Linked DNA regions of Homo sapiens: region 2 is linked to region 1. The links come from fine-mapping of genetic effects on gene expression. Tissue or cell type: lymphoblastoid cells. Region 1 holds a variant in brackets; the other region holds the start of a gene. All regions are shown on one strand. Distances are between the middles of the regions.

Region 1 (7,694 bases):
TACCCTAAACTGTACGGGAAACACCCAGTTCTACTCTCCAACCCCCCTCCAAAAGTCTAATGGCAACCAGATGAACAAGTCCAGCATTGGGGAGACAGGGCCCCCAGGGGACACTGAATCTCCACAAGGCCACCCTCCCCTCCCCCCAATACCTCCCCCTTTCCTCGGCTTCCCCAGAACTCAGCCAACCCCACCCTCCATTGGAGAAACCTGCTTTGAAAAGTTAGCTCTTTGTTCTTCCACACGGTCTCCTGGCTCTGAGCACAATTTCAGGAGATCTCAGCTAAGCACCCTCCACCCACCCTACTCTGCCACCCAACCCCACCCGGCTCAGGCTGGACGGCCCAGCACCGGGAGTTGGCTTTTAATTGGAGGTGGGGGTTGGGAAGCTGTGGAGGAGGTCTGCGAGTCCTTTAACGACTGAATCCAAGGGGGTGCAGGTCGTTCAAAAACGGGGCTCTTGCGGCAGAGCCCGGGTCCTTACCCAAAACCCCCCGCATCAGATGCCACACACTCGCAGGCTGATAGCCCCCGCCCCGCCAGGCCAGGAAGCCAGGCCACCCCCGCCGGAGCGGACGGTTTTGCAGGGCCCCCCAGCCTCTGCCCCGCCCCCCCGCCCCCTCCACCAGCGCCCCGCGCTTCCGCCTACTTGGCGCTCGGCGCAGAGCGGAGAGGGAGCGGCCGTCTCTTCTCACTCTCCAGGCCGTAGGGGGCGGGACTGCACCCCTAACCTTCCCCCAACACACCCCGGCGCCTGACTTCCCTGCTCCTCTCCCGTCCTCCCAACCCCGGGACACAGAGCCCACCCCTCTCCAGCAGCGGCTGCCCGCTACGCGTGGACTTCCCGCCTCGCCCCAGATCTCCTGGTTTTCAGACTGGGATGTGTCCCCACACCCCATGACACCGCCCGCTCGCCCTCCCTCCATTCTCCTGGGATCGCGGGGATAAGGCGGCAAAGACCCGGCCCTTCTCTCCTCCCTGGATTCGGAGCACTGCGGGGGATTGCAAAGACGCGTCTCCCGGTCCCGGGCTCACCTTATCCAGACAGTTCACCTTCTCCGTGGGATACACGATCTTGCCGCACCGGGCGCAGTTGGGGTTCATGGTTCCGAGAAAAGCTGGGGCGGGGACGCCTGAGCTCACGCGCGTCCTGTTCCCCGAGGCGAGCTGGCGGGAGGCGGCCGCGGCTGCAACTACACAGGCAGCAGCGACGGCGGCTGGAGCTGGGGAACTGGCCTCCGCCTCCGCCCTCCTTCCCCTAATAAACACAGCGGGGAGGAGGGGCTGCACTGGGGCGGGCACGCGCCTCGGGCGCGGGCAAGGGCACGCGCAGCGAGGCGCGCTCTCCGGGCGACGTGGGGCTGCGCGGGGGCGGGTTCCTGGGGGGACGGCGGGGCCCGCGGTGCTGGCGCCTCAGCGCTCTCAGGCTGACTGCGCCCGGTGCCCAGGGCCCTTCCCCAGCCGGAGGCGGCGCAGAGGCGAGCAGGCTGCACATCTGGGGCGCCCGGGCTGCGGGAGGCGGGCTAACCCCTCAAGCCCGTCGAGGGTGGGGTTGGATCCTCCTGAACGCTGGAACTGATTCACCGCATTCGGGGACTTTCTACCCGGCATGAATCTGCGGACCGAACGGGGACCCCCTACCCTGCCCCTCTTAGCTCTCTTCCGGCCCACACCCTTTCCCACATTTGTGGGGCGGAACCCGTCCCTCCCTCTTGGACCCTGCGCGCTGCCGGGCCCGGGCTAGTGCTTCCCTCTCGAGCCCCTGCAGTGCACCTTCCCGGGGTTCCCCGGATGCGGGCACCGTCTGCGTTCAGCTTGACCCCTTTTTCTCCAGCATTCCTTTCTCCTTCTGTTACACCACTACTCACAGTGTAGCAGCTGCAACAATGCTTAGCACCCAAGGAGCCGCCTCCAGGCGCTGTAGAGGCGCGGGGGTATAGCTCAGTGGTAGAGCATTTGACTGCAGATCAAGAGGTCCCTGGTTCAAATCCGGGTGCCCCCTCAATGGCTTGGTTTTTCCTTCCCCTTGTTAACCATCTGTTTTTCATTCTTGACTCACATTTTAACATTGGGTCCTGACTAAAAAAAAAAAAAAAAAGAAAAGAAAAAGTATCTTCCTCATTTTTCAACCTTAGCAGAAATCTTTCGGTTTTACTTTGTGCTCAGCGGGAGGAGGGGGTGGGTATAAAAGCTGCGCGACCGCATTACTCGCGCCAGAGGTGTAGGGATTTCTGCGGCCACGGGCGCCAGCCTCAGATGGGTCAGACAGTTCGAGGTGCCGGGTTTGAGGGACAGGATGTTTCCAATGGGGGTAGGGAGACAGGGGAACGCCTCAACTTGGCGTTCCTTTTGGGGGTGGAGGGTGGGTCAGGCGAGGGAAACCCATAGACACAGCCCTTCTCCAACTTCAACTTTCTGTATTAATGGTGACATGGACGTGCTGTGTTCATCCTTGACTATTAATGTACAAAAGTAAAGTTATAACCCAGTGCAAACTGAGATAAACGAACACAGTGTTTCTCAAATTTGAACGTGCATCAGAATTACCTGCAGGGCTTGTTAAAACACTGCTAGTTTCTGATTCTGTAAGGGGGCCCCGAGAATTTGCATTTCTACCAAGTTTCCAGGTGCCTCTGGTGCTGCTGGTGTGGGGACCACATTTTAAGAACCACTGAAGTAAGAATAAAAGGCCATGGAGTTTCATAACCTAAAGATGGGGACAAGTATCTGCTGGCTGCGTGCCTGACAGGGTCACTGTTGGGCCGGAGGAAAATGGTAAGTGTGACGGGAGACAAGGGCGTCCCCCTCGACTAGGTTTTGCCCAAAAAAAGGAAAAATAAAGGAGAAAGGAAGAGGCGTGCTGCCTGGGTCAAAGGGCAGCTGCGATATTTTAAACCCGGAATGTGGTTGTGTCATTCCTCGGACCCCGGGGAAACGCGCATTTTTTTCTCCTGGCTCCTATTACTGTGAGCTGTATCTCTAGGCTGAACAGAGAGATCACAGATCAGCAGAGCTGCGGTTCCGTGCAAAACCCAGGAGGAACCAGTTTTACCTCTCCTTTAGGCCTTGAACTTTCCATGTATAGCTTATCAAGCCAAAGCCCTGCCTATGAGCTGAGTCAAGAAGGAAGAGGGGAAAATTGCTCGCTGTCTACCTTCTATCTGTGTGCCCTGTCCTGTTCGAGTTCGCGAGTATATGAAAACCTCTGAATTTGGATTACTTCTCCT[A/G]GTTTTCATAGTCAAGTACGAACTACTGCCCCGTCCAAGACATATTTTTTACCCCAAAACAAATTATAATTAACGTTAAACCAATGGGCATCGGAGATGGAAATCGATACGCGCCTTTGTTCTCCAACTGAGAGTACTGGTGCGCTTATCGCCACTTGGGGTATGAGGGCTCAGATCCACCTAAAGGCAGCCTCTGGTTGCTGTTCTCTCCCTCTAGGGTACGGGAATCCTTTCAAGGTGAAAATTAGGTAGGTGGAAGATACAAACGACACCTCCCGTGAGTTTTGCATTCAGAACTCGCTGACTCAGGTTATTCCTGGATGGCTGTGAAAAAAACTTAAAGAAACCCGAGGGGGCACCCGGATTTGAACCGGGGACCTCTTGATCTGCAGTCAAATGCTCTACCACTGAGCTATACCCCCTCTGGCGGTGGCTCTCTGGTAAATTGTTTTTACATCGATTGATCCCAAAATTTTCATACTTTCACCATTCGTTCAAAATTAGTGTCTCTTTGCTAGATTATACTGAAATTACCAATGAGGAAGGAGAAATTAAAAGACTAGGCCAAGATAGGCCGGGCACAGTGGCTCACGCCTGTAATCCCCAGCACTTTGGGAGGCCGCGTCGGGCGGATCACGAGGTCAGGAGTTCGAGACCAGACTGACCAAGATGGTGAAACCCACCCCCCCCCCCCCCACCTCCGTCTCTACTAAAAATACAAAAAATTAGCCGGTAGCGGTGGCGGGAGCCTGTAGTCCCAGCTACTCAGGAGGCTAAGACAGGAGAATTGCTGCAACCCAGAACCCAGGAGGCGGGGGTTGCAGTGAGCCGAGATCATGCCACTGTACTCCAGCCTGGGCGACACAGCGAGACTCCATCTAAAAAAAAAAAAAAGGCTAGGCCAAGACGTGGTGGCAGTTTGAAAAGCGTGTGAATTTAGGTGCCAATCTGCTTTGTCTAGGTTCAGTTCTTTTTTTTTTTTTTTCTCCAGACGGAGTCTTCCTCTGTAACCCAGGCTGGAGTGAGTGCAGTGGCGCAATCTCGGCCTCCCGGATTCAAGCGATTCTCCTGCCTCAGCCTCCCGAGTAGCTGGGATTACAGGCGCCCGCCACCGCGCCCAGCTAATTTTTGTATTTTTAGTAGAGATGAGTGTTCCACCATGTTGGCTAGGCTGGTCTCGAACTTCTGACTTCATGATCTGCCCGCCTTGGCCTCCCGAAGTGCTGGGATTACAGGCATGAGCCACCGCACCCCTGCTTGGTTCAATTTTTGTTTGTTTGTTTGTTTGTTTTCCATTTTGTGGAGATGGGGGCAGGTGGTGGGTGAAGGAGGCCGTCTCCCTATGTTGCCCAGAGACGGAATTTCGCTCTCCTTGATCAGTCGGGATTGCAATAGTGCGATCTCGGCTCACCGCAACCTGTGCCCCCCAGGTTCAAGCAATTCTCCTGCCTCAGCCTCCCGAGTAGCTGGGATTACAGGCATGCACCACCACGTCTGGCTAATTTTGTATTTTTAGTAGAGACGGGGTTTCTCCATGTTGGACAGGCTGGCCTTGAACTCCCGATCTCAGGTGATCTGCCCACCTTGGCCTTCCAAAGTGCTGGGATTACAGGCGTGAGCCACCACACTCGGCCTAGGCTCAATTCTTTATCCACAATCCCACTCATCTCTCCCCGCTAGCAAGTCAGAGAACAACCTCCTGCAAAACTGGATAAAGTTTTTCCTTGGTCTCTCCAAAAAGAATACGAACACGCCATTGCACTCCAGCCTGGGCAACAAGTTTCGCTCTCAACAAGAGCGAAACTCCGTTGCAAAAAAGAAAAAAAAAAAAAACTAAGTAAGAAAGAAATCCTGCAATATGCAATAACGTGGATGAACCTTGAGGATATTATGCTAAGTGAAGCAGGCCAGTTACAGAAGACCAAATACTGCATGATTCCACTTATATGAGGTTTCTAACATAGTCAGACTCCCAGAAGCAGAGAGTAGAACGATTGTTGCCAGGGGCTGGAGGGAGTTGCTGATCAATAGGTCTAAAATGTCAGTTCTGCAAGATGAAAAAACTCTAGAAATCGGCTGTACAACATTTTGCCTTCAATTAACAATACTGTATTGTATAGTTGAAAATCTAAGAGGGTCTGCCAGGCATGGTGTCTCATGCCCATAATCCCAGCACTTTTGGAGGCCAGGGCAAGAGGATCACTTGAGCCCAGGAGTTTGAAACCAGTTTGGGCGACATGGTGAGATTCCCATCTCTACAAAAAAAATTTAAAAATTAGCCAGGTATGGTGGTGTGTACCTGTAGTCCCAGCTACTTGGGAGGCTGAGGCAGGAGGATTGCTTGTGCCCAAGAGGTCAAGGCTGCAGTGAGCCAGGGTGACGGAGCAAGACTCTGTCTCAAGAAAAAAAGAGAGAGAGAGAAGCCAGTTGGGAATCTATTGTAATAATACGGGTCAGAGATGGTGGTGATGTCTTAGACTACAGTGTTTTATTAGTTTTATATTGCTGATATAACAAATTACAGTCTATTTGCATAAAACAACAGAAATTTATTATCTTCACAGTTCTGGAGGTCAGAATCCCAAAATCAATTTCACTGGGCTGGCTGGGCTCGGTGGCTCATGCCTGTAATCCCAACACTTTGGGAGGCCAAGGCAGGCAGATCACGAGGTCAGGAGTTCGAGACCAGCCTGGCCAATATGGTGACATCCCTTCTCTACCAAAAATAGAAAAATTAGCCAGGCATGGTGGCTCACGCCTGCAGTCCCAGCTACTCAGGAAATTGAGGCAGAAGAATCGCTTGAACCTAGGAGGCGGAGGTTGCAGTGAGCCGAGATGGTGCCACTGCACTCCAGCCTGGGTGACAGAGTAAGACTCCATCTTAAAAAAAAAAAAAAAAAAAAATCCACAGGGCTAGAATTAAAATGTTAGTATGACTGCATTCCTTCTGTAGGCTTTAGGGGAGAATCCGTTTCCTTGACTTTCCCAGCCTATAGAGGCCGCTACATTGCTGCCTCATTGCCTCTTCCCCAGTTGTCAAAGCCAGCAGCATATCATCCTGTCTCCGTCTAGCCTTGGTTTCCATGCTTCCATGTTACCATCTCCTCTCTCTGTGACTCTGATCCTCCTGCCTCCCTCTTGTAAGGACCTGTGGGATTACACTGAGCTCACCTGGATAATCCAGGATAACCTCACATCTCAAGATATTTAATTTAATCATATCTGTAAAGTTGCTTTTATCATGAGAGGTAACATAGTCACAAATAGATTCACAAGGAGACTGGGATGTAGACATGTTTGGAGCGTCATTATTTAGTCTATTACAAGTAGGAACAAGTAGAACAGCCGAGCTAGAGAAGAATGCAGGTGGCCAGGCACAATGGCTCACGCCTGTAATTCCAGCACTTTGGGAGGCCCAGGTGGGCAGATCACCTGAGGTCAGGAGTTCGAGACCAGCCTTCTCAACATGGCAAAACCCCACTCTACAAAAAACACAAAAATTACCCAGGTGTGGTGGCACACACCTGTAATTCCAGCTACTCGGGAGGCTGAAGCAGGAGAATCAATAGAACCCAGGGGTGGGAGGTTGCAGTGAGCCAAGATCGCACCCCTGCACTCCACCCTGGGTGACAGAATGAGACTCCATCTAAAAAAAAAAAAAAAAAAAAAAAAAACAAAAACGCCAGGCGCGATGGGTCATGCCTGTAATCCAAGCACTTTGGGAGGCCAAGGTGGGTGGATCACCTGGGGTCAGGAGTTCGAGACCAGCCTGGCCAACATGGTGAAACCACGTCTCTACCAAAAACACAAAAAATTAGCCAGCCATGGTTGTGGGTGCCTGTAATCCCAGCTATTCCGGAGGCTGAGGCAGGAGAATTGCTTGAACCCAGGAGGCAGAGGTTGCAGTGAGCCAAGATCACACCACTGCACTCCAGCCTGGGCAAGAGGAGCAAAACTTAGTCTTGGAGGGAAAAAAAACAGAAAGAAAAGAGAAAAATCCCACTGAGAAAGGGGCGAGTTTAGGGGAAAAAAAATGAGTTTATTTTTAAAACTCTTAAAAGAAAGTAACAAAGTACAGCCCCATGTCCTCACAGACATCATGTTCCAGTATTGGGATGAACATGTTTCATTTAAGGTGCTTAACTGATATTTAAGAGTATGCGTTTCGAAGCCTGGCGCGGGGGCTCACGCCTGTAACCCCAGCACTTTGGGAGGCCAAGGTGGGCGGATCACGAGGTCAGGAGATCGAGACCATCATGGTGAACACGGTGAAACCCCGTCTCTACTAAAAATACAAAAAAATTAGCCAGGCGTGGTGGCGGGTGCCTGTAGTCCCAGCTACTCAGGAAGCTGAGGCATGAGAATGGCATGAGCCTGGGGGGCAGAGCTTGCAGTGAGCCGAGACCGCACCACTGCACTCCTGCCTGGCTGACAGAGGAGACACCCTCTCAAAAAAAAAAAAAAAAA
Region 2 (6,347 bases), 120 kb after region 1:
CTGTCTCGTCACCATTTTTAAAGGGATCTGATCCTCGCAATAGCTCTTGGTATATGCTGGAGGTAATTGCCTAGATTTCCCGCGTTCCTGTCCTCTGCGAGTCTCTGGCTTGTGACAGCCACTGTGACTCTTCTGATGCACTTGTCAGCTAGAGGACCGCGTGAGATGCAAACACAAAATCAAGGGGCGCCTAATGTCTGACGAGGCGCATTCCTGGGCGCAGTGGGAGCCTCGACCTTTGTGGAGGAGAATGTGCAAAGCACTCTTGAGCAGTTCTCATAGACACTTGGTCTCTGCAGATTCGGCTCAAAGGAGGCCTCTTCTGGAAGCCCACCCCAGTACTCACCCACCCTTAGCGGGAGCTCACACCAGAAGCGATGGGCGCTAAAGGGACAGGCTGTGTGTCCTTCAGGGTTTGCACCCACCGGCCTGTGAGCGCCCTGCGCAAAAGCCAGGCTCCTGTGCCTTGAGTTCCCAGTTCCTAGCGCAGTATTTGACACTGGCACATGACAGGTGCTTTCTATGTCGGCTAGTAGTAGAACAAAAGACTAGGAAACTCTTTCGATGTGGGAAGAGTTGGGTCAGAAGGTTCTCCTGAGAAACCAGAAAGGCCAGGAATGTGGAGACTAGTCATCCAGGACGCAAAAGATGAAAATGGAGTTTTAGTGGGTAATAGGGTCTTAGCACACTCCTCTCTAGCGGTTCTCTCCTGTCTGGCGCTTAACAACCGAAGAATAAGTGGATGGACCCCGGTGGCCCCTCGGGCAGCCCTCCAGGATTCATGGGCCGCAGAGGAACGTCAACCCCCTTCCCACTGGCTGATAATGCCCCGAGGGGCAGCCCCCCAGGTGCCCATGTGGTTGGTGGGTGGGATCCAGATCTCCGCAGAGCCCCTGTTACAGGTTTCTCTTGTTCGGGGTCTTGTAGCCAGAGAGGGGCGGCTGACTGGGAGTCCTTCCCGCGTTCCCCTCCCTGCAGAGCGAGTGGATGCGCGTCTTCCCCGGCAGAGTGCAGGATGCCGGCGACACATTTGCCTGGGAACAGTGGGAGGGTCCCCTTTCCTCCGGGGCCGGTGAACTACTCGCCTCTCCGCCTGCAGGCTCCGGAGCAGGTGACCGGATCTTCCCTTGGCCCTTCTCCCGCCGGTTCTCGGACCACTCCCTCTGGAAGGAAGTCTCTCCGCCCTTCCTCTTCCTCCCCGCCCCCGTCCCGCTGGTGTGGCTGCAGGCTCGAGCTGGGGTCACTCGGCGGCCAGTGTGCGCAGGTCTCCTGGTCGCCGGCCAGAGGGCGAAAGCATTCACCCGAGGCCCCCAGCTTCGCGGCTGCCTTGGCTGCGAGCAACGAGGGAAGAGGAGGCAGGCGCTCCAAAACTGGGCGAAGATTCCTATCCTAATTTCTAACTCGAGCCTCCCACCGTCAGTGCGCTTAATGGCGCTGCTGGCCGGATGGATAATCGAGCTCTCTGGAGGGACAGACGCGGCCGCCATCCCTAATAAATCGTGAATAACGAATGAGGGAATCGACCATCCTCATGAGGCCCACGGGCGTCCAGTAACGCAGTATCGATTCGCTTCCCCGGCGTCGGCCTCACCGCTACTCCCGGCGTTTCCAAGCCTCCCTCCTCGTTCTCTCCCTCCTGCCGGAGCCACTGCGGACCGGAGCCCCAGCGCCAGGTGGAGCCGGGGCGCCAGTGGGAGTCGGGCCCAGCCGTCTTGGCGCTCGCCCGACTCTCCCGCCCGCGCGCCCAGGGAGGCGCACAGGCAGCGCGCAGCGCAGGGCGCGAGCGAAAAATGCGGGAATCAGCGCCAGGCAGGAGAAAAGGCGCGGGCCCACCTTACAGCCCGGCGCCTCGTTTCCTAGTCCAGTGTGGCCGCTCGCCTTCGGCCGGATTATTGTGTCCCAGACCCGGAGCCTGAGTTCCCATCCTCAGCGGGCCTCCGTTCTTCTCTGCCCGAGCACGCCGGGGGCGCAGCCTCCGCCAGAGCTACCCGATCCCCCCGCGGCGAGGCCCCCCACCCGGCCTCACCCCGCACCTCCACTCCCCTCTCGCGATTGCTCCCTGCCAGGCGCCCAGGCTGGATCCTGGTGCGCCGCTTTTCGGGGCCAGCGCCCCTGCCGCCGAGGGGGCAAGGGGAGTGGGGAGGACACGCTCGCCCTCCCAGATGCAGTTATTAATTTTAAGGGAGTGTCACTTGGAGTGAATGAAAATCGCTCGGACGCCTGGCTGAAGGCGTCGCGTCCCCCGCCGGAGCCCCGCGCCCTTTGGTCTAGGCCGGGGCGTGGAGGACCACGAGCCACCTTTCAGCCCAGTCCCCATTTCACCATTTTCCAGGCGCCCCAGTTAGGGATGGGCATCACAGTGTCAGTGGGGGGAACCCATATTTTGAAGGGAGGGGGGCTAACTGCGGAAGGTAACATAAGAGAATCCATCCTCCGGGGTCGGGGCGGCCGCATGGGAAGGGAGGGGTCTCGTCCTGGCTAGGGACCCGGCAGCCGGTGGCGGGGAGCGGCCGCGCCAGCCTCCCCCTCCTCTTCCCGTCTCTGCCAGCATCCTGAAGGAATGAGGTCACGTGGGTGAGTGGTGGGCGGGACCTACTCTTGTCTGGAGGAAAAAAGCCATTTTGTCTCCCCCCCACACTCCGGTCCCTCCCCTCCCCCCTCGGTCCCCTCCCCTCCCCTCTCCCTCCCACCCCAAGCCGCTTTCACAAACTCCTTTCTTACCGTAGGTTTCTCCCCTCCCGCCGCCCGGGCGAGCGACACGGCTGCGGCCCCCCTCCCCTCCCTTCCCTCCCTCCCTCCCATCCCCCCCTCCCCGAGACCCACCGGACCCCGAACCCAGGTAAGCGGAGCGGACTCCCCCTGCCTTTCCCTCTCCTGGCCTGTAACCCTCTGGGGATTGGGATGGGGGCCGGCCGTTCTTCGCAAGCCCCGATGGGAGGGGGAGGCTCTGAGCCGATCCTGCCTTCGCACCCCCCGCGCCCCGTCAGTCCCTAGCCCAGCTTGCCCCGTCCGCCTTTCTTTCTCCCTTTTTTCTGTCCCTTTTTCCCTTTCCTCTCTTCCAAGATGGCCGAAACGGGCTCCCCGTCTTAACGATTTGGCGTCTCCCTCGACCACCACCTCTTTGTGCAGCAGCCCCCGGGCAGACCCTGTTCCGAGGTAGCGAGGGGGAAGGTCCGGGGCAGCCGGGAGGGCTTGCGGGATGCGCGCTGGGTTGGGTCGCCGCTCCCCACGAGCCAAAGCCGCCTCTCGCTCTGCCCGGTCTACCCCCTTTTCCATCTGGGCGGGGGTCGCTCTCCCGTGGGCACAGGGGCGCCGTGGACGCGCGGGGACTTGGGGCCGGCAGAAGGGGATGTGCTTTGGGGCGGCCGCGAGGCCGGGGGAGGGCGCCCTTCCCCGCCGGGGTCCGGGTCCTCTCGGGCACCTCCCCCCGCCGGTCCCCGCTCCCCGTCCCGGCGCCGGCGCCCCGCCCCCTCCCCGAACCACCTCAGCAGAGCCTCCCTCCGGAACACCCCTCCCGGGGCCCCGCAGAAAGTTTGGCTCTAGGGAAGGTGGGAGCGGCCACCCGGTAACTGGGGTCCCTGATCCTTGGACATGGGCTCCTGGGGAAGCCCGGGCGCTGGGGGTAGAATGGGGATGGAGGGAAATTTATCGCAATATTTCCCATCGCCAGCGGAAGCAGGGGGATCTGCTAAACTGGCCCCCCTTCCCCTGGGACGCCCAGCCACCCCACCCTGCGCACGCCCTCCTACTGCTAGCTCTGAGGGCGTGGGACCCCCGGGCAAGCAGACACCCCCTGCCTGTCTCCACGGTGGGCCCGGGCTGCCCCTCGCCCTCCCCCACTGCCCCTGTCTGCCCATAATCGCTCCGGTTGGCTTGAGGTGGGAGGAGGCGGCATGGAGGCGGGTGGATTTGCCAGTGAATATTGTGGAAGTGTTACCCAGCGCTTCCCGAGATCTTTGTCCCTCAGTGTCCCCCATGCTGCCTCAGTCTCCCCAGAGGTCTGTCTCGAGGGGAGGGCTGTCTCCTGGTTGTCCCCTCCCCGCTCTGTTCTGATGCCTCCTCCTCTGGGACCTCTGGCAGTTTCTGTTCCTGAAACTCTTTAATTTCTCTCCTCCCTCCCCCCTTCACTCTGGTCCAAGGTGTTATTACTGGGAGCATAAAGCCAGCTCTGTTGCAGCTTTTTGGTGGGAAGGTTTTCCCACGGGCTCCCCTGGTTGGGGGTTGGGGGATTGAGGCTTTAGAACTGACTTTGGAATGAAGCAGGAAACCAACCCCAGGATCCAGACCATGTGTAGCTAGGTAGGGTTCAAGTTGAAGTCTTGGGGGTTGGGCAGGAAGGGGGACTCTGCTGCCCCTGGCCTTGCCTGAGAGATCTTGGTTGATGGAGCTGTTGTCATGGGAATGGAGAGAGCCCGAACAGGAAGAGGGTACAGCTTTGTGCAGGTCACATGCCCACTGCAGCCCTCCAGCCTCTGGTCCCCAGAGCGGACTTTGGAAGCTGAACTGCTTTTGTTGCTGGAAGACTTATGTTATAATTTACCCTGGGTGGACCAGGGTCGTACAAAAGGTTAGTGTGTGTTTGCAGGGTCTGTTTCCAGGCAGGGATGTCAGGCTGTGTGCTTCTAGGTGGGGGGTGGATGTGGATGGCTTCTGCATGTAGCGAGGGTGGGCCTGGCTCTGGTCTGGCTGTGATTGTGTGTGTGTGTGGCGCAGGGTGGGGGAGGGTTGTGGCGTGTCTATCTGGCCTTGTGTGTAGTGAGTGTGAGAGGTGGAGGGGGGTGTGTCTTGCTGTATGTGTGTGTATCTGGCAATGTGTATATTTTGGGGTTTTGCCTTTGTTTGATCTTAGGGAGTTGAGAGGTGGGAGAGGGAGGAAGGGAGGGTTGAGTAAGCCCAGCTTCAGGAGGCCCTTTTCAATGCATGGTGGGGACAGGGGAGCAGATCTTTGTGCCATTGTCAAGGATTGGGGAAAGTTGGGAGGTTCACAGTGTCCCTAGGCAGACCCTCACGGCCCCAAACACAAATACAAGGGGCTTGCGCAGTTGGACCCACGAAGCTGGGAGAGGAACAGAGTCATAAAACCCCTGGTCTGAGTCTTGATGCTGTACTCTGGCTGGCTGTGCTTCCCTGCAGCCTCTGTTTCCCTATGTGTAGGAAGTGGGGTAAGGCAATTAACATGTGCCTCCTCTTCCTGCCTCAAGGCAGGAGTCCATGCTGATGGTCATGTTTGGGCCAGACTGACTCCCTCCCAGACGGCGGCCCACTGAGTGGTTTTCCCGCCACTCCAGGGAGCTGCTCTTTTCCCCTCCCACCTGCTGGGATGAAGCCGGGCATTACTGCTTTAGATGAGTGAGGAGCCTGGCCAGGTGCCAGGATGTTAAAAGCACTGGGGTGGGAGTCAGGCACTTTCTTGTCACAGGACTGCCACTGCTTTGCTTTGTGACCTTAGACAAGTCACATCTGAGTGTGCTCATCTGTAAAATGAAAGGATTGAACAGGTGCTTCTTTTTCTTTTTCTCTTTTTTTGAGATGGAGTTTCTTTCACTCTGTGGCCCAGCTTGGAGTGCAGTGGCACGATCTCCACTCACTGCAACCTCTGCCTCCCAGGTTCAAGCAATTCTCTGGCTCAGCCTCCTGAGTAGCTGGGATTACAGGCGCCTGCCACCATGCTCCGCTAATTTTTGTATTTTTGTTTGTTTGTTTGAGACAGAGTCTCGCTCTGTTGCCCAGGCTGGAGTGCAGTGGCGCAATCTCGGCTCACTGCAACCTCTGCCTCCTGGATTCAAGCGATTCTCCTGCCTCAGCCTCCCGAGTAGCTGGGACTAGAGGCGCGTGCCACCACACCCAACTAATGTTTTGTATTTTTAGTAGAGACGGGGTTTCACCATGTTAGCCAGGATGGTCTCGATCTCCTGACCTCATGATCCGCCCGTCTTGGCCTCCCGAAGTGCTGGGATTACGGACGTGAGCCACCATGTATTTTTAGTAGAGATGGGGTTTCACCATCTTTGCCAGCCTGGTTTTGAACTCCTGACCTCATGATCCATCCGCCTTGGCCTCCCAAAGTGTTGGGATTACAGGTGTGAGCCACCACGCCCAGCTGAACAAGGTGCTTTCTAAAAGCCCTTTCACCTCTGCAGTTCTAGACATCTGGATGTGACCTTGAGTGACTTTTCCCAAGACCTGGAGACATTCTAGTGAGGGAGTGGGGCTGATTTCATTTGGAGGCAGGGAGAGCAGAGAGAGCTATGGCATCAGAGAAGCACAGGGGCCTTGGGGCTGGGAGACCCACTGTTTCCACAGGGGACCATGAAGAAGTGAGAGAGGCCTAAATTGCAGGGTGGCTT

What was found. PIP is the estimated chance that this variant, and not a neighbour inherited with it, causes the effect.
Region 2: PCGF2 starts here. The variant in region 1 is fine-mapped to the expression of PCGF2 in lymphoblastoid cells (TwinsUK, PIP 0.95).

The regions. Positions count from the first base shown.
Region 1 is chr17:38,863,600-38,871,293 of GRCh38, reverse strand. It overlaps LASP1 (LIM and SH3 protein 1), which reads right to left and starts at 1,236. Exons shown (of 7, transcript NM_006148.4): 1 at 1,036-1,236. The coding sequence starts at 1,104. TRC-GCA2-2 (tRNA-Cys (anticodon GCA) 2-2) reads right to left here and starts at 3,649; the gene lies at 3,578-3,649. TRC-GCA4-1 (tRNA-Cys (anticodon GCA) 4-1) reads left to right here and starts at 1,931; the gene lies at 1,931-2,002. RefSeq lists silencers at 577-676, 1,197-1,506, 2,927-3,026, enhancers at 987-1,136, 2,627-2,806, 2,382-2,982, 2,983-3,585, 7,315-7,394 and a cis regulatory region at 3,244-3,857. The variant A/G (reference allele first, on the strand shown) is at 3,228.
Region 2 is chr17:38,744,688-38,751,034 of GRCh38, reverse strand. It overlaps PCGF2 (polycomb group ring finger 2), which reads left to right and starts at 2,699. Exons shown (of 11, transcript NM_007144.3): 1 at 2,699-2,839; 2 at 3,064-3,156. It overlaps LOC100287808 (a long non-coding RNA gene), which reads right to left and starts at 2,001. Exons shown (of 1, transcript NR_149004.1): 1 at 1-2,001. RefSeq lists enhancers at 2,566-3,101, 4,130-4,894, 4,895-5,660.